Homo sapiens: one gene and its partners. The protein of the gene in region 2 purifies or fractionates together with the protein of the main gene of each other region. This does not show direct contact. Each region holds a gene or a part of one and is shown on either strand. Other genes may lie near its edges.

Region 1 (7,231 bases), on a different chromosome or scaffold from region 2:
AAAAAAGCAAAATTCAGGAAAGCTCTGGAGGGAGAGGGGCTGGTAATAGCCAAGGGTTGATTACATACATAAGCCAAATTCTTAATGATTATGTAATTAATACATTATAACAATAAATACATAAATATGCTAGTACTTACTATGTGCTAAGCATTCTGCTCGGCACTTTCATGCACCCCTTGGGTAGTAAGAGCATCCAAAGATATTCTAGTTCCTCCCCTGCCTCCATTCACTGCCAAGAAGGCAGCAGCCTGCCCCCCTTCTCCCACCATCTCACTACTGATGCAGGGGCCATCCCCTGGACCCTAGGCATGGCTTTGCTCCTCAGAATGACAGGACCAAAAGCCTTTCATAAAGACTCCAGTGAGGTGACTGATGTCTGGCTTTGTCAATTACAAGTGAATAATTAATACTTGCCAGTAAAGAAATAGACTCATTGTTACGGTGGCCACATGGAGGCTACAAAAGGCCATTTTGTGACGCTTTTGGTGGACCCCTGGGGCCAACAGTGGTCCAAAGAAGCTGCGTTGAGAGTGTAGTCCAATCTTTAAACGTAGGGACTGGGACCCGTACTGTTTTCCAGGAGCGCTTTTCCCGTTAATTAGCTTGTAGCCGATTCATCATCTCATTCAGCTTTCTGGTTGATGACAGCAGCAGAGGCCACTGAACATCAGAGAGGGCATGATTTATCAGAGGGGTCATGTAGTGTTCTACCAGGGCCTTTTACCGGTTTTTGAATTCATGTCTACTTCCTTCTCTGGGCCAGCATCTGATTTGAGTAAAACTCTCCAACCCCACTGGGTTGTACATCCGACTCTTGGCCTAATGCCTAAAGCAAGTTTTTCCTTTTTCATTTTCCAGCAGGGACTGAACAAGGCAGCCTTGGGTGCCTACAGAACCGGTCAGAACTGGCCAGGAAATATAATAAAGAAGCTTAGTGAGCAGAGAGCTAATGCCCCCAGCCAGAGGCTCAGTGCGCACAACTAGCTAGAGGCACTGACTTTGTAAGCAACAACACTATCTTCTTGAGGTCTAATAATTGCCTTGGCAAAGGGCAGCCAATGCCAACGAGGAACCCTGTGTACACAAGTTTCTCATCCCGAAAGTGGACACTGGGTGCTCAAAAAATGCCTTCTGGTGACAGTAACACCTGACCAGTCAAACAAACATGCACGCATGCACATGCATGCATACACACTCTTACAGCATTCCTGCCTGCAGGGCCAAAGCTGCCCTTGCCAAATACAGAGCTGACAGCTGCTAGATATTGTCATTTCAGGGACCCGTTCCCAAAAGAACTACCCAGCTCCCCACCTCCACTTCCAGCCCACTGTTTGAAATTCTACCATTAGTGATAGCAAATATTTCTACAGTGTTTCCCATTAAAGCTTTGTTTCCCATTAAAATGCCTCCATCCTCTGTTTCTTTTCCGGTCAAATGACTTGTAAAGCACCTGCTCTGCATCAAATGGGAACTTCTTTTGTATTTAGCTCTTCAAGATAAACACAATCATTGGCTCCTTTCTTGAAAACCATTTCTGACACTGGAGACTGGGGGAAGGGCAGGGCACTGTATGGAAGTGGAGGTGGGAGGCCACCAGGAGGGCCACAGAGAGAGGGTCTAATGGTGGAGAAAGCAACCATCAAGGCCTTCACAGGCCTGCCCAAAGATATGGACCTGATTTTTGCCCTCTAAGATCTCAGGGACCCAGGTTGCTGGCACAGCCTGTATCCAAGAGTAAGGTGAGACCCACTGCCCTAACTGGGACACAGACAGGAGGCAGGAAATGGGAACACAGGAACCGACAGTCTCCTGATTTGCCCCTCCTGCCAGCAGGCCTGCCTCCGTCTCCCTGCCCATGCTGAGGGCACAGGCACCCAGGAACTAGCAGAAAAAGATCCTTGTCCCATTCTTGGCCTAGCTGGAAGGACAGCTGATGGCTCATCAGCCCTGGTGAGTGTTTCCACTGTGCTGGGGAAAGTAGGCAAGCAAAGGTCAAAATCAGATTCCCTGTGCTGGGGAGGCACCTGGGCTGTCAGTGTCCTTTCCAGCCGGGTTCTGGATATAGAGGGCCATACTTATGTGGAACATGCTACCTGCCCCCATCCCCAAGCAGAGAGCACCTCCTCCTCTTCTTTTGCACATAGGTGGGCTGTTCTTTGGGGTGAGGGGTAGGGCTGACCTGAAAAGTAGACGCCACAACAGACAGGCAAGCATCTTCCTGGTTCTTCAGAGCTCAAGAAAAAAACCACCTTTTCCCCCAGGAGTCAGCCCACTCATCCCCTTCCCCCACTTCCACCGTGCCCGCAGCCAGCTTGGTGAGCGATGCTAGTGTAGGCCAGAAAGCTTCCAAGCGGGTCAGACCTGCTCCTCTCTCATCAAAGCCCTCCGCCCCCAAACATCGACGCTGCGCCCCTCGCCCCACCCATCACACGTTCTGTGTGCCCGAGGCGGCTGCCAGGCGGGCCCAGGCGGCTCTCGCTGGCCCTGGGGGAGGTGACGGTGGTCACGGCGGCAGAGGCAGGGGCCAGCGCTCTGCAGTACCTGGACTCGAGGATGTCGCCGCTGCCGGGCTCGCGGCCGCTGCAGGTGTCTCCGGTCCCTGAGATTAGCACCGCCTCCTCCCGGGCTGGCGGCTCCGGCCCAGGCCGCGCACCTGCTGCTGCGGCTCCCCCGCCGCCGCGCCGGAGCTCCGCGATGTGCCCGCGCCTCCCGGGCAGAGGGTCCGTGCCGCGGGACGCACGGTGGGTCCGAGGGGGAAAGGGGCCGCGTGGGGCCTGAGGCCGGGCCTCGGGCTAGCCCGGGCACAGCGCCGAGCGCCCCCCGCGGGCCGGGAGAGGGGGCGGCCCTTCGCGCATCCTCACGGCCTCATCCCCGTCCCCGGCGGCATCCTAGTCCCCGTGCCCGGCCCGAGGCCTGCGAGGGCCGCTTACCTGGCTCTGCGGCGGGTCCAGGGGAGGGGCCTGAGGCTACCGCAGGGCCCCGCGCCGGGGCGCAGGATGCTCTGCCCCGCTCCGCTGCGCCGCGCTCGGCCCCGCCCCGGCCCCGCTGCTCCGCCCGCCGCGGCTCCGCCCCCACCCAGCGCCCGCCCCTTCGCCGCAGCGGCTGTCACACAAAGGGCAGGAAATGGCTGCGGCGAGGGTCTCTCCACGCTCTCCGCTGTACCGCCGGCGCACCCAGGACCTGCCTCTCGGTTTCGGAGGACCGCTCAGCCCCCAGGCTTCCTGCCCTGGGGGCGGGAAAGGGAGGGAAGGCTTCTTCCACGGCCTCCATCACCGGGAACCACACCTGCAGCAACCCGAGGACGAGAGCTTCGGCCGCGTTCGGATCTTATTGGCCCCACATGATTTCCAAGTGCTCTTTTATCAACCCAGTCTTTATTGATTACCTATCCTGTTCCAAGTACCGTGCCAGGACTTGGGTGTGCACTGGTGTACAAAAGACAGGGTCCTGCCCCCTTGGAGTTTTATCACCTGCCAGGAGAAACAGGTGTAAATTAACCTAGCAAACGTCCAGTTACAGCCCAAAGTGCTCTGAGGAGAAGGAGCAGGGTGAAGTGACAGAAGATGCAACTGGGGCTAGGGGAAGGGGCCTTCCACCAATTGAGCTTGGTCGCTGATAGGGCTCCTTCGCTTAAGAATAAGTTCTTCCGCTCCCTTCCAGTTCCCTGGAGAAGAGTCCCTGAAGCTGCCACCTCTTTTACAGGGGCCTGCCTCAACTTCATTCTGGAAGAATTGCCTAACGGACAAATAGGTGGCAGGAAGCACTGAGAGGACAGGTACCTTTCTCTTCAAGGCTTATCTGCCGTGTCGGGCTCTTTAAAGAAGCAATTATCTGCCCAGCGGTGGCTCACACCTGTAATACCAAAACTTTGGGAGGCCGAGGAGAGAGGATTGCTTGAGCTCAGGAATTGGAGACCATCCTGGGCAACTCAACGAAACTTCATCTCTACTAAAAATTAAAAAAAAAAAAAAATAGATGGGTGTGGTGGCATCCACCTTTTGTCCCAGCTACTCAGGAGGCTGAGGTGGGAGGATTGCTTGAGCCTGGGAGATTGAGGCTACAGTGAGCTATGATCCTGCCGCCGCACTCCAGACTGGGTGACAGAGTGAGACTCTGTCTCAAAAAAAAAAAAAAAAGAATGAAAGAGAGAGACGGGGGGAGAGAGAGAGAGAGAAAGGAAGAAAGAAAAAGAAAGAGAGAGAAAGAAGAGAAGGAAAGAAAGAAGAGAAAGAAAGAGAGAAAAGAAAAAGAGAAAGAAACAATTCTCATTGAAATCCAGCCTGGTAGGCCTTCAGACCAGGCTGAAGTCAGGCTGCACCAAATTCTAACCTTGAGACACCTGAGCAGGTCACTTCACCACTCTGCTCCACAGAGGTCACCGTATCTGCAACACAGGGAATAACAGTTGCCCTTTATACCTTACAGGGTAAATAATTTGAAAACATTTGAGACATTGTGGAGTGTATGTAGATATAAGGAGTGGTTTCCTAAGGCCCACAAATTTATACTTAATCACTCAGCTGTTCCTAATAAGGGCAATTTGTGGAGGAGCCCCGTTATTCAAGCTCCAGCAAAGGACTTGTGGAAGCCTTTGCTTTCCTTTACTGATCTCACCTTATTTCCCACGTGCTCAGAATCCATAATTCCTTGTGGTTTGATCTTAAATCGCTAATTCCAATTCAAATTGCTATTTCGGAAAAAAATGACTTATATATATATATATATACACACACATACATTTCTTCCCTGGTTCAGTGTGAAAAGCTGTGGGGGTGTTTGTGGAGGATGGGTTTAAAAACAGAACTGAGGTTTCCTTTTTAAAAAATGTTTCATTTTCCACCGTGATCCTTGGGATTTCAAGTTCAGTGATTACAAATACTTAACAATGAGAATCCCAATAAATCAGATTTTCATTCTAAGGGGCATATTATTGCAGATGGTATAGTTTTTTGGAAGACGTATTTCTCCCTGTTGTTCCTTCCCTGTCTTTTCACCTTCAGGAACAAGTTGCCTAAAAACAGAAAAGACTATTACATATATATTTGGTTAGATCTTAGGCAAAAATAACTCCGACCTCTGAGTTCTATTTGTGTATAAAGGAGAGCAGTATGGTCTTTTGAAGCCACTGTGTTGGAAATCCAGAGGCTTGCCTTTTGGTTCTAGTTTTGCAACTAACAGAAGAATGATCTTAGGCAAGGAGCCTCACCCCTGTTTCCTCACCTGTTAAGTGAAGTAAGTTGGATGCTCTCCAACTTCCCTCTGAATGTGGAAAATTACATGAGTTAAAGGGCACGTCCCTCCCAGGCTTAAGGCACTTCCCTAGCTCCCCACTGCCCCCCGATGAAGCCCAAACTCTCCAGTGGCCGGAGAGGGTCTTTAAGAGCTGGCAGCTATCTCTCCATGTGAACAAGCTTGCTGTGCTTCAGCTAAAAGGAACAGCTTTTAGTTCCTCAAACTTGCTGTGTTCTCTGTTGTGCTCGACATTCGTACATGCAAGGCTTCTTCAATGGCAGTTTCTGTCCCCCCATTCCCTCCCTCCACATTCCACACTTTTTCCCAGTTTACCTGATGAAGTTCTGTTCATCTTCCTGGTATTCCTCTAGATGTCGCTTCCTCCAAGATTCCTACATGTCTGGGTTAGCTTGAGATTAGTTGTCTATGTGTCCTTAGCTGCCTGGGCTCCCTCTATCACCCCACGTATTAGTCTGCATTATAATTGTCAACACACTTCCCTGTATTCCACCATGAGACCATAAAATCTAAGGGAGCAGGGATATGTCTGTCTTGCTTTCCCATTGCATCCTTGGAGCCTGGTACTTAACAGGAGTTCAGTAAAAATGGATGGAATGAACACCCATAGGTGACATTTTTAAACTTTGCCACTGAAATGTATAGCTGTCTGTCTACTGCCTTCAGATTTCCTTCACATCCAACCCCAAGCTGTGCATCAGCAATGAAATGGTAGAGGATATCAATAAGAATTGCTTTGGTACTTGCAAAGCTGTGGCCCACATGTTGTCCATGTGGCAACATTACCTTGTGTTTTAGAAAAGCTTCAAGTTATAATCCCAGCACTTTGGGAGGCCGAGGCAGGTGGATTGCCTGAGGTCAGGAGTTCGAGACCAGCCTGGCCAACATAGTGAAACCCAGTTTCTACTAAAAATACAAAAAATTAGCTGGGCATGGTGGCGAGCGCCTGTAATCCCAGCTACTCAGGAGGGTGAGGCAGAATTGCTTGAACCCGGGAGGTGGAAGTTGTAGTGAGCCGAGATCACACTGTTGCACTCCAGCCTGGGCAACAAGAGCAAAACTCTGTCTCAAAAAAAAAAAAAATATATATATATATATGTATTTTAAAACTATCAGGAGACCCTGCTTTATAGACACCAGTAATGAAGTATCTGGAATGGGCATGAAGGGAAAACATAAATAATGATAATAATAATAATGGCTAACATTTACCAAGTACATTACCTCATTTAATTTTTCGTAATTTTTCTATAAGGAAAATACAATCATTTTTCCCATTTTTATAATTGAGGCAATTAAGGTTTAATAATTTGCCCAAGGTAGTGAAGTCAAACCCATGCTTTTTACCACAATCTCATACAGCCTCACTTTCCCTCTTCCAAGCTAAGTCCATTTGTTTACTAATATGCTACCTTATTCTAAAAACATATTAAATGTAAGTTACAGGAATACATTATGTTAAAAAATTAAAAATCAGCAAGAAATTTTTTAAAAAGAAGGAAAAGAGTAGAGAGATGAGATGGAGAATCGAATGTACATAAGACCAAAATGTAAACAAAACAAAAATCAATCACAGCTCTACCTGCTATGAGCTTGCTAACACATTTGGTTCTAAGTATTTATGTGGGTGGCAGGAAAAGATAAACTTGATGGTCAGTTACAGAATTTACATTGGCCATTCTGTAGATAGAACCTGACCACTTGCTCAAAATTGCCTCATTTTATAGGCAAGAGAATTGCTTGAGCCCAGGAGGTGGAGGTTGCAGTGAGCAAAGATGGTGCGGCTGCATTCCAGCCTGGGCAACAGAGCAAAACACTGTATCAAAACAAAGCAAAACAAAACAAAACAAAAAAGTATATCCCTTAGATTCTTGTGAAGGTTATATGAAATGATAATGTAACACACTAAGCAGAGTCTGGTACATAATAAATGCTCAAAAATGGGATTATTATTATGATTTTCTTTTTGAGACAGAGT
Region 2 (7,028 bases):
AGCGGTGTAGCTCCCAGAGTCATGGACTGCTCGCATCTGTTCTGGCCGGCTGGTGCCCACACTGGAGAGACTGGCAAGTATCTTGAGTGTCATCCCCAATGGCCCCAGGAAGGAAAATGGACTCTGTTCTTCACTTTCATTACTGTTGAGCTGCTGAATTCTCTTGCAAAAACCATCAACAGGCATTTACTAAGCAAATGCCCACAGGGAACCCAGCCTGAAAAGGGCCCTTCCAATTTCATATTTGACAGGCATGTGCAGAGGTAATGAAATTATTCAGCAGAGCATCAGATTCACTCAGAGGCTACCAAGCCAAGAAACTGAAAGCAGAAACACTGGATTCTCCCTGTTTGTTGAACCTTTCCCTCTAAAACCAACTTATTCAGAAACACATCCTTTAAAAAAACAAAAGGAAAAACCAAAGCGGTGAAACAATATCACTTACTGGTTGGAAGACATCACTCTGACATAGTCATTAGTCTTGCAGAGACCTAACACCAGGCAGCTTCACAAACACACAGCAAGTCTGCAGAGTTATATTGATCAGTAAGAGTAAACCCAAACTGCACTAAATACTCTCATGGCCAAGAGGAAAGCAGATGCTGTTTTCAGGACAATGTGATAGTGACAGCCTATTTCCTCATGTGCAGCACAATTTGCTATGTTTAGTGGCACTTAAGTATTACACAGTAAATACTGAAAAGACCCAGAATTTTTGGATGTGCAGAAGCAATATCACATTGTTTATACAAAAGGTGCTATGCTACGGGATTAGAATACCACTATTTGGGTGTAGAGACCACTTAAAATCTTCAACACGCTCCCACACGCGGCCTCTCCGCCGGCCTTTGCTCAGTCGGACCAGTCGTTCTCGTCGAACTCTGAGTCGTCGTCAGAGTCGCTGTACTCCACGGCAATGCGCCGGGACAGGATCGTGGCCACGTCATTCCCCACTGGCTCCCGCTTGGCCTCCTGCTCCCGCTGCTCCTGCACCTTTTTCAGTTGAATTCCTGCAGACACAACACGTGGTTCAGAATCACATCCTTTTGCTGGCTCCAAATTAAAGATAAACGAACAAATATGTCTATTGGACTTTTTTTTCTACTGACACTAAGGACAGAAAGTTTTAGAAATTTGAGGGGAGAAAAGCTCAGGGAATATTAAAAGTTTCATGAGAAAAAACATGCATTCAAAGTGAGAAGTTTTTTTGTAACAAAGTAATGTGTTAAAATATTAAAAATTCCTAATTTCAGTGTACCTGAACACCATTAGAGAAAACTGTGGAGCTGCACCATCCCAGACAGCAGCCACTAGGCACATATAGCCTTAAAAGCATGAACTGACATGTGGCTAGTGGCTACTCTCTGGGACGCTGCAGGCTGGAGCATTTCTATCACCACAGGACATCTACTAGGCAGCAACAGCATCCAGAGCCTTGGAAACAGTGTTCTATGCTACTCACTCTCAGCTAACCCAAGAAGTAACTGAGAAACCTTTATTTCAACAATTACTGTGGAAACAAACATAAAATACAATCATCTACTTTCTAGCTTAGTAACAAAGTAAGATATTTGATGATTTAATGTTTATCCATTTTTTTTTTTTTTTTTGAGATTGGGTCTCACTCTGTGACCCAGGCTGGAGTGCAGTGTTACGATCATGGCTCACTGCAGCCTCGACCTCCTGGGCTCAAGCAATCCTCCCACCTCAGCCTCCTGAGTAGCTGGAACCACCGGCGCACGCCACCATGCACGGTTAAATTTTGTATTTTCTTTTTTGTAGAGATAGAGTCTTGCAATGTTGCCCAAGATGGTATCCATTCATTTTTTAACTGTTTTGAAATAATTTCAGATTTACAGAACAGCTATGAGACCAGCAGAAAAACATTCCCATATACTTGGATTCCCCAACTGCTAACATCTGACCACATTTATTTCCCAATCTTCCCCTATCATCTTTACACAGACAGACACAGACACTTTTCTCTGGACCATTTGAGAGTGAATGGCATATAATGTCCCTTTACCCCTAAAATAGTTCATGTGTTACCGCCCCCGCCTCGCCCACCCAAAATATCAAAATCACAAAATTAGTTTGGATACACTACTACTATCTATCCTACAAATATTATTCAAATTTTGCAAAAAGACCCAATCTAATTGCAAATGGAAAAGATTATCCCCTGGTTCAGAATCCAGTGGAAATTATCCGTGACATTGGTTGTCAATTTTGTTAATGTCCTTTAATCTGGATAGTTCTTCACAGTCTTTGTGTTTTACAACCTTCTCGTTTTTGAAGAATATAGGAAGCTATTTTGCAGAATGTCTGTCGATTTGGGTGTATCAGATGTTTCCTCGAGATTAGATACAGATTATGTATCTACTCTTGGTAGACAGGGCTTATAAGGTGTTAAAAAAAAAAAAGGCAAATCCAACACCGTCCTACAATGACCCCGAACTTGATATTCATGAGCTAATATACCTCTAGGACTTTTTTATCTTGACAAAATAAAAGTGTGTCAATGATGTCCAGGTACACAGAGGACCCTGGGGTCTTTAGAAGGGTGCGTGGGCCACACTGTGGGCCTGGTTCATGGGCACACAAGAAAAACGCAGAGGCAGCAGCATCACAGCTCCTCTGAAGGACATCCCTGATGCTGAGCTGGCGGGCTGCAGCCAGGCTCCTTGCTTGGTCACTTCCAGATGAGATGACTAAACTGTGACCAAGTCTGTGCAGCTCCCCACAGGCGAGAAGCTCTTGGATATTCCCATAACATGTCAGGGACCCTCGACCAACCTGGGTTGGGACCTGGTTAAGAATCCATGGTGTGGGCTGGAGGTTCCCAGGGGCTCTCTGGGCAGCCCAAGACAGGCGAGGGCAGACTCCCCACCCAATTCCACCTGAGATGCTCTGTTTCCATGTGTTTTGTGGTCAGGGGGTCAACGCGGGACTTTCATCTGACAAAAGGGTTATGCTGTTGAATATTATAGATTCTGAAAAACCACTGGCTTAGGACATCAAGCAAATATGACAAGTCCAGCACAAACTCTTTTTTTTTTTTAAAGAAATCATTAATATGAGCTCACTTTCTTTCATTTATACTTTTCCCCTTAGAGCAGAATGCAGAGAAGAGATCCAATTAATTAATCGATCACTTCAGTTATTGGGTTTCTGGTTTCAAGGTAAGTAAAAACTTCCTAATTTCAATTCTTTTTTTTTTTTTGAGACGGGTCTCGCTCTGTCGCCTAGGCTGGAGTGCAGGGGCGTGACCACGGCTCACTGCAGCCTTGACCTCCCACACTCAAGCAATCCTCCCACCTCAGCCTCCTGAGTAGCTGGGACTACAGGCTCAGGCCAACATGCTCAGCTAATTTTTTTTTGCATTTTTTGTAGGGATAGAGTTTTGCCATGTTGCCCAGGCTGCTCTCAAACTCCTGGGCTCAAGCAATCCAACTGCCTTGGCCTCCCAAAGTGCTGGGATTACAGGCATGAGCCCACCGCGCCCGGCTGTTTCCCAATCTTTATCACAATTTGATTACCTTACACTGGACAAAAACACAACTACTATTCAAAACAAAACAAAAAAATCAAGTAAGACCCCTTTAACTCTATTTTAAAAAACGTAGTGAGTAGTCATTTGAAGACAAGGAGGCTGTAGCTGGCTGGAGACATGAAGAAACCTCTTGCTGAAAGGCAGGCTGTGTGTCTGGGGGCTCCACTTACCCATTCGAATAGCAGCGAGGAGGTCGCTTCGAGCATCACTGATTGGTGGCTGTGCAGGCTCTTGCCGCTTCGCCTCAGCTACTGGGGGGCCATGCATTGGGGAGGACGAAAGAGAAGACCCGGGACCAGGAGGGCCTGGCGGGGGAGGTGGTGGGCCCGGGGGTGGCGGGGCTGTGACCAGGAGCCCGGTGGAGGGTGGGTGAGGAGGAGCTGCGTGCGTGGAGCTGGCTGATGCAGGGAACGGGGGCTGCATGGGCATCTGGAGAGGGCTGACGAAGGCAGTTTGTGCTGAGGGAATCACAGGAGGAGGTGGCGGAGGAGGTGGTCCGGATGGGTTGTAATACTCAATTATCTGCGCTGGGAGCATCCTGAGAGAGATATGAGGCACATAGTCACCAAGGGAACAAGAGAGGGTCACGTCCTGGGAGCTCTTAGACACCTAACGGAGCCATCCCCAGACACAACACGTATTGTCACCTGAACTTCAATCATGGCAGGATGCAAACATGCACACCTTGGGTCAGTTATTTTCACAGTTTGACATTATTCATTATGACAGAAGTCAAGATCTGCTACTGAAATGTGCCAAAAGGAGGACCACTCAAAAAGTGCAGCACTTCCTGAAGAAAGGCAGAATAAAGCAGCTGACTGCAGAGGCCAGGACGGCAGCGCCAGTGAAGGCTTCACACTGGGATCTCAAGGCGGTAGCTCACAAACTTGTCTTTTAAGGGTCCTAAGGTCAACCAGATTGGGAGCTTTCTACATTCTCTAACCCACCTCCGTGGAAATGCCCCATGCCTGCAGTGCCCAGGTGTGTATCAAAAGCTTCGAAAAGTCACACAGCCAAGAAATCTGCTGAATTCTATTCAGCCGAGGGTCTTCCAAACTAACTGGACCATGGGCCCTCTCTTGGCCTGACACAGCCTCAAGCCACTCTGGGGATCCTGACTTGGCATGCATGGCCAGGGAGAGCACTTCTGAGAGCAGGATTGTCATTCAGACAGGGGTGTGCAGACACGTGTTAGCAGTGGACACCAACACACGGTAATTTTCCTGGGCACCAACTCTGAGGAATGAAGTCTTTAAAGACTAGAGTAAAGCCAAAAAAAAGAGAGGTGGGTGCCTAAATTGATAAACGCCTGAACATGAAGTCTCTGAATTCTACTTCTCAGGGAACAGGAGGGCCTGGGGCAGAATGATGTCTGGGTGGTCAGAGGTCACGAAAGCAGATTTTGGTCAAGTCTGAGAAATGAGGCACAGGAGCTGCATGGTGTGGTCTTCTCGTCTGTGATAACAATTTTCTGTGGTCCACTCAGGATGTGTCCAGAAACTTGAGGGTTTGGGACAGGTTCACAAAATCAGCACTTAATACCCTTTATCAATGCCTTGGCTTAAAGAGCCATTCAAACACCCAGAGTGTGTGTGAGGGAACACACATGCATGCACAGTGTGGCCTGAGACTCAACTGTAAGTCTGAGCTTATGCTGCACCTGCTTTATTTCACACAGAATGTTAGAGTTGCTAGTATCTACATCCAGTCATCCTTGACTCTATCTTGGCCTCTAAAATACCGGAGTTAAAATTCTCCTACCACATAGAGCAAGATTCAAATGCAAGGCCAGGAGGGATTAGGGTACAAGGCATGCTGAGTTACCCGTAGTCTGCTGGAGCCATCGGTGCAGAGGCCTGGGACCCCTCTGGGGCCTGAGGGGGAGGCGGGGGGGGCGGCTGCTGAGGTCTGTTGAGGGCCATGTGCCTCGCCGAGGCAGATGGGGGCCGGTACTCATGCTCCGCAGCCTGGCTTGCAGGCCCGTGTGGTGGCACGTCACCAGCTGCATAGGAAGGGGTCACAGGCTGGGGGTGCAGAGAATGGTTGGGAGTAGCCGGGTAAGAGTAATCCGTAACGTCCGATGCATGTGACCTGGCATTTGAAAACAAGAGGTGGGAGAAATTTAAATTAATTTAAAAATTGTCGGCTAACAGGCACATGGATGTATTTGAATAATAACATTGCTAATACACAAAAATCAGACATTAATTTGCTTTACTATCAACTAGGTATAGCCCCGTGAGAGATTCCAAGCAACAACATAATTATTATAAGTCGGCAGCAAGCCCCAGTGTTACATGGATTCAGATTCACAGCTTTGAAGTGAATAAGTCAGACAGACCGGCAAGCAGGAAACAGCAGAGCCTCCTTTTCACAGTATTTCAGCATACGTTTTCTCTAAGAAGGCTATGAAAGAAACCATTCCATTTAGAAACAGGATATAAGACAGAAGATTTCAGTGGCAATGAAACTGACAGCATATAATTAGAAAATATAAAATGGCAGGTTAACTGGATAAATATTAACAGTAAGAACAGGAAAAGAAATCGAGAATGCAGTAGAGTGAATCATATTTTTCTTAAACAGAAGAAATGTACTTAACAAAAAGGGCAGAAAGCAATGCGGTGCACTATGGAAAGGCCTTCTTTCCATAGTTTTCTTTGCACACAAACTGGGTGTGAAACTCCGAAAGGAAAGGGATCTTGGATTAGTGGAGCAGAGCTGAGACATGGGGTGCAGGGACGGGATTCCTGCTAAGCCCTCAGGAGGAGAGGAAGGACCCAAGTGTGGCAGCCCGGCAGTGCCGTGGGCGTTAGTAAGACAGTCACACGCTCCTGGCTCAGGTTACAGGACATGTGGCCAGGAGGGGCTGTACATCCTCTCATGGCGGCAGAAGCAGGGGCAGTCTGAGTCTGGGAACCCAAAGAAAGCAAAACAACAAACCCGCTGGGCACTCTGTCCTCTTTGGCGCTCCCTGCCTGCTCCAGTTTCTTTGCGTCACTCATAAACTCAATGCCCATTTTCCTTCTCTCCCACTCTTCTTTTCTTGTTCTGACTTTTCTCACATTTACTTGCTGGTTTCTGTTAGGGTTCAGCTTGTGTTTCTCTCTCTGAAGGAAATACCAAACACACATTGGGGGTGCTGAGGGAGCAGGGAAGATGCACGCTGCATTTCCATCTTTGGGATTCCAGTTGGTAGCTTTTCTTAACTGGGGCACCATGTGGCACAGAAAAGCCTTCCAAATGAGAAGAGACAGCTTCTTTTCCTTTTTCCTTCCTTAATTGAAGTGTAACAACTAATAACTACTCATTATTTTCTTCCCTAATTGCAGTATGAATTCTGGATTATGGTGCACTTCTGATTATGTCTTTTGAACTAGGTGAGCTGCTAGCAAATGACTTAAAAATATATTTAATGGGGGAAGGACCTGACCTGTATTTAGATTTAGAGTATTTTAAAAATGTAAATTCCTAT
Region 3 (5,845 bases), on a different chromosome or scaffold from region 2:
GTTCAGCTATTCTTTTTAAGGAGTGGCAAGATATGCCTGTTGACGATGTCATTGGTACTTTGAGTGGCTTCTTTACAATCATTGTGGGGATATTCTTGTTGCATGCCTTTAAAGACGTCAGCTTTAGTCTAGCAAGTCTGCCTGTGTCTTTTCGAAAAGACGAGAAAGCAATGAATGGCAATCTCTCTAATATGTATGAAGTTCTTAATAATAATGAAGAAAGCTTAACCTGTGGAATCGAACAACACACTGGTGAAAATGTCTCCCGAAGAAATGGAAATCTGACAGCTTTTTAAGAAAGGTGTAATTAAAGGTTAATCTGTGATTGTTATGAAGTGAATTTGAATATCATCAGAATGTGTCTGAAAAAACATTGTCCTCAAATAATGTTCTTTAAAGGCAATCTTTTTAAAGATTTCACTAATTTGGACCAAGAAATTACTTTTCTTGTATTTAAACAAACAATGGTAGCTCACTAAAATGACCTCAGCACATGACGATTTCTATTAACATTTTATTGTTGTAGAAGTATTTTACATTTTCATCCCTTCTCCAAAAGCCGAATGCACTAATGACAGTTTTAAGTCTATGAAAATGCTTTATTTTTTCATTGGTGATGAAAGTCTGAAATGTGCATTTGTCATCCCCACTCCATCAATCCCTGACCATGTAAGGCTTTTTTATTTTAAAAAAACAGAGTTATCCCAATACATTATCCTGTGATTTACCTTACCTACAAAAGTGGCTCCTGTTTGTTTGATGATGATTGGTTTTATTTTTGAAATATTTATTAAGGGAAAACTAAGTTACTGAATGAAGGAACCTCTTTCTTACAAAACAAAAAAAAGGGCAGAAATCACCCCAAGGAACGATTTCTCAGGTTGAGATGATCACCGTGAATCCGGCTTCCTCTGAGCATTCGATGGCCTTAGCACCTCATCAAGCCAGCACATCCTGCCTGCTGTTGCAGCCTGGCTGGGTTTATTCTTCAGTTACCCTAATCCCATGATGCCTGGAACCTTGATTACCGTTTTACATCAGCTCTTGTACTTTTCAGTATATTTTCATAATGAGTTATATTGTCATTTAGACTTTGAACAGCTCTGGGAAATAGAAGACTAGGGTTGTTTCTTAAATTTAGCTCATGTTATAATAAAAAGTTGAAATGAAGTTCTTATTCTAAAAGTCTGAATGCTTAGAACAAACTTAACATGTTTATAGAATATGGTCTCTTTGTACCAAGTACTTTGCTTAAGAGCTCCTTTGGGCCACTACATATTTTGGTTTCTAGAAAATGTTTGTTTATGAAGAAGTCGATGGAAAACTGCAAACATATGCAGAAAAGGTAGAATAATAAAAAAGGTCTAATGAACTCCATTCAGCTTTGAACCTATCCACTCATAACCATTGACTGGCCTTTAAAAAAAAGTATTGGCAGAATTAATTTCCACCTAGGTGATGGGAAGAAAGTGTTCGCCTGTTCCAGCCTGTGGCTCCTGCCTGGAGGTTACCCAGTGGTGCGCCAGCGCCAAGCCATCACTCCCCGAGGGCCTCCCCTGCCAATGGTGCTGGTATCCCATGCAGCTCACCACTGGCTGCGTGGAAACTCCCTTTTTTCCAACTTTATTATTGGCCTTCTAAGGAGCTGTTTTAGATGTTTTTTCTAACTGCCTCCTCCCATGCCATTTTAATACTACAGATGTACTACGTATCTGTTTATATACTGTACCTACATCTGTGCTTTGTACATAAAAGAACCAGTTTTCTCCCCCTTGAGGACAGAGACTCATTTGAACATGCATAGGTTAATAAATAATAAATTCTTATTTAACATTTTGTAGCACTTGAGATTGTCTTATACCTAAGGTATTACATATTTGGTATATAATTAAGCCTTATAAAACTTGGTAATTGATTAAGTTTTACCATAATTTTTCATCCTATTCTGTAGTTTCTAAGATAAGCACAGCTACCACCTCTAAATCTGCAGCAGAATGCTGGCCCCAGGGTTATTAATTCACATTACCAAAAGCATTTTTAGGGAACTTTTTATAAAGAAAGAATAATTGTTTGTTAGGCTTCATGTCACTTGAGTGAGTTTGGCAGTGTAACAGGATGGTTCGTACACTTACTACTTTTCTGTGCCGTGCATCATATGCTTCTGGACAGTTTCCAAAGGCCTCCGGAAAAGTAGGCGAGGCCTGCTTTTTATGGCAACTTGGCATCCATAGAAAATTTTAAAATTGGTGAAGGTTGCAATACTCCAAATAATGTAAAATGACTGCCAGGCTACAATATAAAGTGAGTTCAGTTAATCATGCTGGACTTGTGTTTATCTGTAGTATTCATCTACAATAAACAGGCATAGCATCTTTTTCCATTCAGTTAGTTAGGATTTTCAGAACCTCATTGCCTTAGTACTTTTTAAAATATGGCTTTAGTTTCTCAAACATGTTCGTGACTCTACTGGTAGTCTAGACCGATTGTTTTTCATTCTGACAGATCATGTGAACCAGCTCCAGCCATGTGAGCCCTGTGGATCGGGGACAGCTGAAGGCTGGACTCGGTGCTCCCGGTCCCTTTGTGCAGCACCCACTGGGCCTGACTGATCTCCTCCCACATTGCTGGCTTCCTCCAGGTCATGGGCACAGGTAACAGAGAGGCACTGAGTAGCCTCTTCATATCCAGATTGGAGCAGCCAACACGGCCGTTTTACACCTCATTTGCCTGCGGAACCCTAAATATAAAGCTAAACCTGTGCTGAGGTGAGCGGTATATGGGATGGTGTCACGGTCCCATCCCACCTCAGCCTTAGAGGTGACCTCCATCCCAGCTGGCCTGGTATGTGAGTTCAGGTTAGAGTTCCTTGCCAAGCCAGGCAGCACAGGGTTAGAGTAAATAAATGAACACAAATAGATCTCATTAGTTTTATTTCTATAACCTTTCGATCTGATGTCACGTTAGATTTTGTCACAACTGGATTTAGTGGAAGCAGGGGAATCAAGTTCACTATTTTCTGAAACACACAAAAAAGGGATGGGAACAATGACTTAGAACTAAGATTGCTCATAAAAGACCATCAGAAAGATCCCTAAACAAAAGCTAAATAGTTACAGTTAATGGTAACTGGCAAGGGATTTAATGCATTTGCTGGTATTAAGTTTCTTATGGAATGAATGAATGAACCCAGCAGCATTTTATGACACAGCTGCCAGAACATCCCATAGAAAAACAATTTTGTAGGAACGTGATGGCAACAATCAGCAGCCAATATTCTCAAGAGTTCCTAATTACCAAAAGCATATACAATTTTAGTCTAGAAAAATAAGTCAATTTTATAAAATTAAGTTTTTAGATCGAAAAGCACCCCCTTTAACAGGTACAGAGATACTGAAAAATAGTCCCTAAAAATCTCACTAAATAGTTTACGGAGAGAAAGGCATGCCATGTTGAGTTACGGAGTGCAGCGCGTGCCCTCAGCTGCTGGCGAGGGACTGGTGGATGGGCGGCTGGAAGCAGCGCACATGCTCCACTGGCGTGCCCTCCCCGTCGCCTGACTTCAGGTACTTATCCAGGATGGTGATGATCTCATCATTGAGAATCTGGAACTTGCGAATTCTCTCCACCATCTTCTTCAAAGGCTACAACCATCAAAGTGAGGATGTTTTACTATTAACACTTCAACATTTATTCTTCATGTTTCAAAATGTCAGGATTCTTATATTTTCTCAGAAAAATAATAGCAAACGGAATTGACACACATACTGTTCTTTTTGGGTTTTTTTTTGTAAGATAGGGTCTCACTCTGACGCCCAGGCTGGAGTGCAGTGGCATGATCACGGCTCACTGTAGCCTCAAGACATCCTCCCACCTCAGCCTCCTGAGTAGCTGGGACCACAGGCGTGTACCACCACACGCAGCTAATTTTTAAATTTAATTTTGTAAAGACAAGGTCTTATTATGCTGTCCAGGATGGTCTTGAACTCCTGAGCTCAAGCAATCCTCCTCTGCCTCAGCCTCCCAAACTGTTGGGATTACAGGTATGAGCCAGCACTCCCAGCCACATACCATCTCTTTAATGCAACAGTTGGAAGGATGAATATATTTTGAATTTAGAATCCCTCTGTTGGCTTCATGCTGCTGTAGATTCATTCATGCGCACAATTGATAGGCCTATTCCTTCCACATTGGCAATTAAGAACCTACTGTCTGCTCAAAGCTGGGGATCTCCAGATGAAGATGATGTGGTCAGTGGAGAAAGGCCAGTCAACTAACACAAGTTTTAGACTTCCAGTTTGGAAATACTGTGACGGGATACTCTGACAGACCCTCCTGCTACCACAGGAATAAAGAACACGAATTAAGAACATACACGCAAACAAAACGCTTTGAAAAGCTGGTTCTACCTATGCAGGTGGTAAGGGGGAAGCCAGGGCCTCCTCAGGGGCAGATGCCAACAGCGGCGGTGGGGTGAGGAGCAGCCCGGGCGTAAGCAAGCGGGACCACACCGAAGACTCCCCAGTGAAGCCAGGACCTCCAATTCGGCTAAAGCGGCCCTGAGTTGGTAGCACCCCATAGAGATGGGCAGATACAAATGCACATCTTGGGGGAAAGCAATCTAAATTAACTCCAGTTAAATAAAGACTCCCAAATAACCCAACACACAAGGAAACAGCAAAGTTTTAAATACCTCCAAGGCCTTCAGATACTAGAAGGAAAACACACAGAATATAGAATACATGAATTGGATAAAGAAATAAGAGATGGAAAAAGTTCAGTTAAGACAATAAAACTGTCAGTTACCAAGAAGATTTGAAGAACCTAATTGAACTTTAAAAAGTGAACTAATAATATTTTCAGAGTAAAAGCTCAGCAGATTAGAGCTGAAGTAAACAAGTTAACTAAGACACATGAATACAGTATCTGGACACAGCTCTGGGAGCCCCGGAAATGGAGGAGTGGGAGGCAGAAGGGCCCCTGAGAGAGGCCCATGACCTGGAGCCTGTGACTGCATTGCCTCCACTCCACGGGGCCTGGGCAGGTGTGGCTAAGACTGGACTGTAGAACAGGGAGAGTATCTGGGGTTGTCCAGTGGGCTCAATATAGTCACAGTCAGGGAATGTTCTCTGGCCGGAGGCAGGAGAGACATGGCAGAAGACTAGAGGCTGAGACTGCCCAACCCACCATTGCTGGAGGGGGCCACTTGGAAAGCATGAGAAGGAAGGGGGACCCAGTCCTACAGCTGCAAGGAATAATTGAGCCAACTGTGCATAAGCTTGAAGGCCTCCAGGGTGAACCCAGCACCTCAGACACTGGCCCCATGAGACTGAGCAGAGGACCCAGCTGGGCCTGGCTGAACTCAGGCATCTGACTTAGAGAATTGTGAGATAATCAGTGGTATTTAAACTGCCAAGCCTGTGGTGATTTGTTGTCATGGAAGCAATAGAAAACTAATACAACAGGGCTGGGCGCGCCTGTAATCCTAGCACTTTGGGAGGTGGGCGGATCACCTTATGTCAGGAGTTCAAGATCAGCCTGGCCAACATGGTGAAACCTAGTCTCTACTAAAAATACAAAATTACAAAATACAAAAATCAGCCGGGCGTGGTGGCAGGTGCCTATAATCCCAGCTACTCGGGAGGCTGAGGCAGGAGAATCACTTGAACCTGGGCAGCAGAGATTGCAGTGAGCCAAGATCGTGGCATTGCACCCCAGCCTGAGCAACAAGAGCGAAACTGTCTCAAAAAAAAAAAAAAAAAGAAAGAAAAAAGAAAACTGATACAACAAAGAGATGTGGAGAATAGAATGAGAAGGTCTAACATATGTTTAACTGAAGTCCTGAATG
Region 4 (7,028 bases), on a different chromosome or scaffold from region 2:
GGTCAGGAGTTCGAGACCAGCCTGGCCAACACGGTGAAACACCGTCTCTACTAAAAATACAAAAATAAGCCAGGCTTGGTGGTGCGTGCCTGTAGTCCCAGCTACTTCGGAGGTGGAAGTTGCAGTGAGTTGAGATTGTGCCACTGTACTGCAGCCTGGGCAACACAGTGAGACTCCATCTCAAAAAAAAAAAAAAAACAAACAAACAAAAACTAAAATATCAAGACTCAAGTAACCACCAAAAAGCTTTTACGAAGAAAATGTTTATTTTAAAACATGATTTCTCTATTCTGCTTGTAAGTTCAAAAGTTTTGGTGGCCCAAGTTCAAATTCTTTCAAAAACTACATAGTTATTATATATACAGATTCGTTTAATATAAATCACCGTAGCTGTAGGATATTTCTAAAAGGCTAATAAAAAGGTATTTAAAATGTTGTTGCTTCAGTTCCTTTACATCTTTACTGAAACATTAAGCATTCTGAAGGCATTTTTCATTCAACTTAGAGGGCATAAGATAATTTAAAAGATTACCTAAGAAAAAGCAATAAGCCCAGTAATTTTTGTATTATAATCTATGGAAAGCAAATACATTCAAACCGCAAGTGTGAACAAATTGTTAACTTTGGCTGGAATTTTGAAGCTGGTATTTCAAAGAAAACATCATGATTCAATACTATGAAGGCCTGACCACAAGCCAAAGACTCTGAGGTTCTGTCCCCTTTACCAAGTCAATTCACCTATTTTCGCTTTCCATTTTCTCACCTACAAAATAGAGAAAACTAAACTAAGATGCCATAAAAAGGCCTTGCTAGCTATTTAATTTTCATTTTCATATTAGTACTTTCATGTTGGATTAAAATAATTAACATTGTAGGCTTGTTGCTCATATCCCTGAAATGTTTTTCAGGAATTAATGTTTAAAAGCTAAAATTAATAAAGACTATATTACCTTAAGTTCAGCAACTTGTGATGAAATATGCCACATAAGGCTTTCACTTAGAAACTTCATACCATATGGGCCTAGTAGTTCTGATAATGACCTCATTTCTGAAAGAAAACATACTTAATTTTATACTTCCGACAGAGCAAATACTTTAAGAAAATGAACATTAACACAATACAACATCTCATTATAAAAACTAATGTAAAATCCTGATAAAAGTCTCTAGAGTGAAAGAGAGAATACAAAATGCAAAAGTAATTCTAAGATACAATATGCAGTTACGCATATAATTGAATGAAATAGTCACAACAGAATCAAAAGTCTAAAGAATCAAGACACTAGCAAAAGAATTAAGTGTTCTTCATTCTCTAAACTGTGGTATAGTACTATTCACCTGATATGTCAGAATATTCCTCTGCATTGAATGTTAATTCATTTTCTGTAGGTAAGTTCACAAACGCTTTCATTGCAGGAAAATATGCTATATGGCCATTGCTGACTTGTCGTAACAAAGTTTCCAAATACCTAAGGAGAAACGTAAACTTATAACCGGAAGAAACTGCTTAATTCAGAATGTATCATGATATACATTCCTGCATATAATTTTAAGTTGACTGATAATATGAATAAGTACTTATTCACAAAAAAATTAATTTTCCTAAGTACTTCATTACAAATTTTCCGCTACTACAAATTTCTAAATGCATTCCTTACCAATTTGTGTATAGACTTGTAATGGTTGGCTCTCCATGACTGTCTAAATGTTGTGTTTGTTGAAGAAGCACATTATTAAATACTCTTGTAATATCAATCTGCACATAGTTTTCTATTGACTGGAGTACGGTCATGTATGCTCTTACACTTGTTAGAAGTTCTGAAGGTTTTGCAATTTCCTGTGTGGCTTGATTATACATAGTCATCCCAACAATTGACCTGGGAAGAAGGGATAGAAGAATAAGAAAAGCCTCTGACTTTTCCATTCATGTAAAATAAACCACTCAACCTACTGTTATCTAATATTAAACAAGCAATAAAATTAACTTTAAAAATAATTTATTACAAAGCTGTAAAATTACTGTCATTATCTTCCCAGGAAACAGCGTAAAAAAAGAATGAAGGCCGGGCATGGTGGTTCACGCCTATTGTAATCCCAGCATTTTGGGAGGACGAGGCGGGCAGATGACTTGAAGTCAGGAGTTCGAGACCATCCTGGCCAACATGGTGAATCCTTGTCTCCACTAAAAATACAAAAATTAGCTGGGCCTGGCACATGCCTGTAATCCTGGCTACTTGGGAGGTTGAGACAGGAGAATCGCTTGAACCCAGCAGGCAGAGGTTGCAGTGAGCTGAGATTGCACCACTGCACTCCAGCCTGGGCAACAGAGTGAGACTGTCTTAAAAAAAAAAGAAAAAAGAAAACTTAAAAACTACAACGAAATGTGAATAAAATGATTAAAAACATTCTAAGTATACCAGTAACAAAAGTGATTTAAGTATAAAGAGGGTTTTACAAATTGCTTTAACATGGTAAGTTGTTTGTAGCAAGGACAGTGAACTATTTAGTCTACAGCTTGAATTTATTTGACACTGTTAGGTGCCAGTAGTTTTTGAGGCTTTATATAAATTACCTACAATCCTCACATTTAATAAACACCTACAATGTACTTATCACTATATCTCCCAGAGGAAAAAAATAAAGCTCAGGACTCACATAAATTGATAAGGTTTTGTTGGGAAGTGGTTATGACTAGGATTTGACCGCAGATCTGCCTGACTTAGTGCTGCCTCTAAACAAACTGTATGACAGTCAAACAAAATAAGGCAACAAACAACTTTATTTTCTTTAATCACTCATAGCATATAAAACAGTTCTGTTTATATCTCAAGAAACTGTATACGACTAAAAAGGAAACACAAATTTTGAAAATACTTCCCTAAATGATCTTATCCTACACTGACCACCCCTATTTCACTTTCTTTAAAACTCCCTGAGCATTAGATCTGTAAAGATCTTAGACTTGTATTTGTAAGGATGAATCCTTAAAAGACAACCGACAAATCCCATCACTAGAAACAGGCCAAGAAGAGCCAACGCAAGATGAAAACTGCTATCCTAGTGTATAATCCCTAAGTCCTAAGACTGTGCTCAGTTGATTGACAAAAACCAACCCACTAATATTCACAAGCTATCTGGCTGGCCAATATGGCGAAACCCCGTCTCTACTAAAAATACAAAAATTAACCAGGCACAGTGGCACACGCCTGTAGTCCCAGCTACTCGGGAGGCTGAGGCAGGAGAATTGCTTGAACTTGGGAGATGGAGGTTGCAGTGAGCTGAGATTGTGCCACTGCACTCCAGCCTGGACGAAAGAACAAAACTCCGTCTCAAAATAAATAAATAAATAAATTAAATAAAATAAAAAATCTTTCCAAGGTAAACAAGCTGTTCCCCTTGCCTTGATCCTAATCACTAAGTAGATGTTTGGTTAAAAAAAAAACTGCTTCTCTGTGGATTAACAAAGCAGACTGTTTACAAGGAAAACAAGGGAGCTGTACACTGAACTCTCCCTTCCACCCACCAATGTCCCACCTCTAACCCACTTGAGAATAATAAACACCACAAGGCACAATGCCCCTTTGGTCTAAGTTCTAGGGCATTCTGGGTTTTACTGTCAGGATGCCTGACTTACTAAGGAGAACAAAAGACAGTTCATCACCAGACTCTTCTCAAGTCAACTGATAATTTAACACTCAACTTAGTGCCACTTTATATACTGTCATATTCTGTTCTCTAATTCTTTTAGTCATCTCACCAGCTACAGTTCTATCTTTATCTCATTATTACCTAGAGTACTTAACACATTGTTAAGCATATAGTGCAAATACAAACACCACCTGTTAATGACTACAGAAACTTTGAAAACCTTTTGGCAAAATTTTGTTTTATAAATTGCTTCAAGGCTTTGAAGAAAAAAATTGTCAAATAAATAAAAATTTTCATGAATAAATATTAATAAATAAGGATGTAACTTCAGAAAAAGGTTAAAACAATATATATAAAGTTGAAAGGTTTCTGACTTATCAATGCACTATTTCATATACATACATAAAATATATATTCATATATAACAGGAAATTCTAATTAGAATTGAGAATTCAAGAATCTAGAATTCTATTGGCTTATTTAACAGCAACATGTGAATTCAGAAAACATGTAAGGGTTCATCTAGTCCTCAGGTCTTCAAACATTTTACTGTGACCTACTGCATGACACGCATCTTAACACTGCAAGTCAATACACATGCATACATGTAACTGAAACATTTCACGAAGCAATATATATATTTAATGCACACAGTGTACTGGGTTTTTTTTCCTATTTTTTCTTCCTCTTGTCCTTTCTTTCCCTCCCACTTTTCTCTAAACTTTGACTACAACCTAATAAACTGATTTCATGAACCTACTGGGTTGCCACCTGCAAGATGAAATACATTGATTTGCTCCAATATTCTCACTTTGTATATAAGGAAGCTATGACTCAGAGATATTAACTGGTTTGCCTGGTGTTACTAGTTAATACTAATAGGTATGAGAAAAGAATCTGGGTATCTTCAGTAATTTTCAGTTCACTATTCTTTGCATTTCCCAGTTCATTATTCTTGAGACAGAGTCTTGTTCTGTCACCCAGGCTGGAGTGCAGTGGCATGATCTTGGCTCACTGCAAGTGTGTCTCCCGGGTTCACGCCATTATCTTGCCTCAGCCTCCCGAGTAGCTGGGACTACAGGTGCCCACCACCACGCCCAGCTAATTTTTTGTATTTTTAGTAGAGACGGGGTTTCACTGTGTTAGCCAGGATGGTCTCGATCTCCTGACCTCGTGATCTGCCCACCTCGGCCTCCCAAAGTGCTGGGATTATAGGCGTGAGCCACCACGCCCGGCCCGGTTCATTATTCTTAACACTAATCCAGTTCTACTAATGCTTTTCCTTATAAAACACTGTATAATTAAATAACAAACTCATTACTGAGTCAACAAACAAAAACAGTCAATATTCTTTCTTACTTGGTAAAGCGTATTTCCAGATGAGAAGTCAAATATTCTCGTGGGGTAAAGGTATGTTCCCATACCACCATGTTTGGTACATAATTTATAGAGAAGCATAACTCAGAAAGTGCAGTGTGCAATTTATCAAGGCTGAAAAAAATTAATAAACAGTTAAAATGTTCACATGTCATCACAGGCAATACAAAATTAATTTTATAAATATATCAACCTTATTTGGAGATAATGCTTAGAGAATTCGACTTTTTATTCTCCTAAACTGAGAAAGTTCAAAATCTTTAAGGTTATAACTAACACATAAGAGCAATATTCTAAAGATGGCGTCATTTGTTTCTACCTTTAGGTAGTAATGAATATACTGACTTAATATACAAAGGTAGAGCTTATTCTGCACTCATAAAGATAATCACGCCCAATTCCTGAAGTACTTTCTGTTATGAGAGAAGGAAAGTTGTCTATAAAAGGGCAATGGCTTGCTCAATTTAGCAAGAAAGTAGGAACTATACTTTAAACAAAAAATATTTACCGAATTATTACCCACCTACACCTCCCCTCCAAACAATGAAGCAAGCAAAGATCCCTGAATGCTACCTGGTCTGTTATTTCTGTTTTATAATAATGACATTGGGTATGTTCTAATATATCAAAAACATGCCAAAATAAAGTCTCCACTATCTAACTTTAAATAAATTAAAAATTACAGATTGCTTATAATGTAACACACAAAATTTTTTAAACATATAATTGGCCTTCAGTACTTAGTATAAAAAGACAAATATCAACTATTACATATATTTTCTTCTAAAGGCCAAAATCTGTATTTTGAGATGAAATAAGCAACTAACAGGTTAATTAAGCTCAGAAATATTTTTTAAAATGGCTGGAAAATGAAGAATATACAATTATTAGCATTTCCTCAGTACTAATGTCAATAGAAAAAAATGAAATAAATATTTTACCTGGAGCAAAAAGGTATAATATAAGTGGATACTTACTTGGTCACAACCAGCCTGTTTTTCCTCATGCTCTCAACACCTGGTTTCTCCCTTTCAGGTTCCCCTTTCTTACCAGTCTGCTTTTTTGATTTCTTATTCACTGCTTGACTGATAGTTTTGGCACAATGCTTGGGTAGCAACTAAATTTAGAAAAGAATGAAATCTTACATTACACCAATTACTCTGAAAGCATACTAACTATTCAAGCAAACAGTAGCTGAATCCAGGCTGTGTTGCAAATATCACAACAATATTAAAAGACAGAAATATAAGTGAGATACAGAGCTTACTTAGCTAGCTTGGGTAATGCACATAGCTTGGTGAAAACAGAAACGGGTAGATCTTGGGTAAATCTTGTGTGAAGAAACACGTCATAGAGTAAATTCATAGACGCTTATTTAAATTACTATTAAAAAGACAAGTAAAAACATACCAGGCAAGCAAGGAATGAAAAAGAATATTTCACTGGAAGGATTAAATGGCCTTTGGAAAAAAACTGTGTAAAGATATGATGGTTCAGAGCTGTAGTTAGAACTACTATGTGGTGGAGCATAACGTGTAAGGTAAAGTACAGAGGTTTCAACTATTAGGAAGGGCCTTGAATGCCAAGCTAGAGGTTGGATTGTAAACTGCAGGCAAAAAGACAGCGACAATTTTTTAAAATAGCCACAGCATGAGGAGACATTTTCTTTTCTTTTCTTTTCTTTTGAGAAGGAGTTTCACTCTTGTTGCCCAGGCTGGAATGCAATGGCACAATCTCAGCTCACTGCAACCTCTGCCTCCTGGGTTCTCCTGCCTCAGCCTCCTGAGCTGCTGGGACTACAGTCGACTGCCACCACACCCAGCTAATTTTATTTGTATATTTTTAGTAGAGATGGGGTTTCGCCATGTTGGCCAGGCTGGTCTCGAACTCCTGACCTCAGGAGATCCACCTGCCTCGGCCTCCCAAAGTGCTGGGATTACAAGCGTGAGCCACCATGCCTGGCCATGAAGAGGTAATTTTCTAAGGATAACTCTGATATTGGC

What was found.
Region 1: the proteins of WASF3 (region 2) and CYFIP2 purify together in Homo sapiens (affinity purification with mass spectrometry; 3 studies listed by BioGRID and IntAct, with this or other methods). This does not show direct contact.
Region 3: the proteins of WASF3 (region 2) and CYFIP1 purify together in Homo sapiens (affinity purification with mass spectrometry; 2 studies listed by BioGRID and IntAct, with this or other methods). This does not show direct contact.
Region 4: the proteins of WASF3 (region 2) and NCKAP1 purify together in Homo sapiens (affinity purification with mass spectrometry; 3 studies listed by BioGRID and IntAct, with this or other methods). This does not show direct contact.

The regions. Positions count from the first base shown.
Region 1 is NC_000005.10:157,261,898-157,269,128, reverse strand, and holds the start of CYFIP2 (cytoplasmic FMR1-interacting protein 2), read right to left. Parts: upstream 3,007-7,231; 5' UTR 2,934-3,006; exon of another isoform or gene 2,545-2,933; intron 2,349-2,544; exon of another isoform or gene 2,183-2,348; intron 1-2,182. UniProt on the Homo sapiens protein: Involved in T-cell adhesion and p53/TP53-dependent induction of apoptosis. Does not bind RNA. As component of the WAVE1 complex, required for BDNF-NTRK2 endocytic trafficking and signaling from early endosomes.
Region 2 is NC_000013.11:26,679,670-26,686,697, reverse strand, and holds part of WASF3 (actin-binding protein WASF3), read right to left. Parts: exon of another isoform or gene 6,664-7,028; coding exon of another isoform or gene 6,497-6,663; exon of another isoform or gene 5,645-6,496; coding exon 5,378-5,644; exon of another isoform or gene 4,283-5,377; intron 4,092-4,282; coding exon 3,724-4,091; intron 3,183-3,723; exon of another isoform or gene 3,115-3,182; intron 1,011-3,114; coding exon 853-1,010; 3' UTR 1-852. UniProt on the Homo sapiens protein: Downstream effector molecules involved in the transmission of signals from tyrosine kinase receptors and small GTPases to the actin cytoskeleton. Plays a role in the regulation of cell morphology and cytoskeletal organization.
Region 3 is NC_000015.10:22,866,552-22,872,396, forward strand, and holds the end of CYFIP1 (cytoplasmic FMR1-interacting protein 1), read right to left. Parts: intron 3,642-5,845; coding exon 3,477-3,641; 3' UTR 501-3,476; downstream 1-500. Other genes in the region: magnesium transporter NIPA2, read left to right, coding at 1-296. UniProt on the Homo sapiens protein: Component of the CYFIP1-EIF4E-FMR1 complex which binds to the mRNA cap and mediates translational repression. In the CYFIP1-EIF4E-FMR1 complex this subunit is an adapter between EIF4E and FMR1.
Region 4 is NC_000002.12:182,951,455-182,958,482, forward strand, and holds part of NCKAP1 (nck-associated protein 1), read right to left. Parts: intron 6,143-7,028; coding exon 6,003-6,142; intron 5,140-6,002; coding exon 5,008-5,139; intron 1,878-5,007; coding exon 1,659-1,877; intron 1,470-1,658; coding exon 1,339-1,469; intron 1,049-1,338; coding exon 951-1,048; intron 1-950. UniProt on the Homo sapiens protein: Part of the WAVE complex that regulates lamellipodia formation. The WAVE complex regulates actin filament reorganization via its interaction with the Arp2/3 complex. Actin remodeling activity is regulated by RAC1.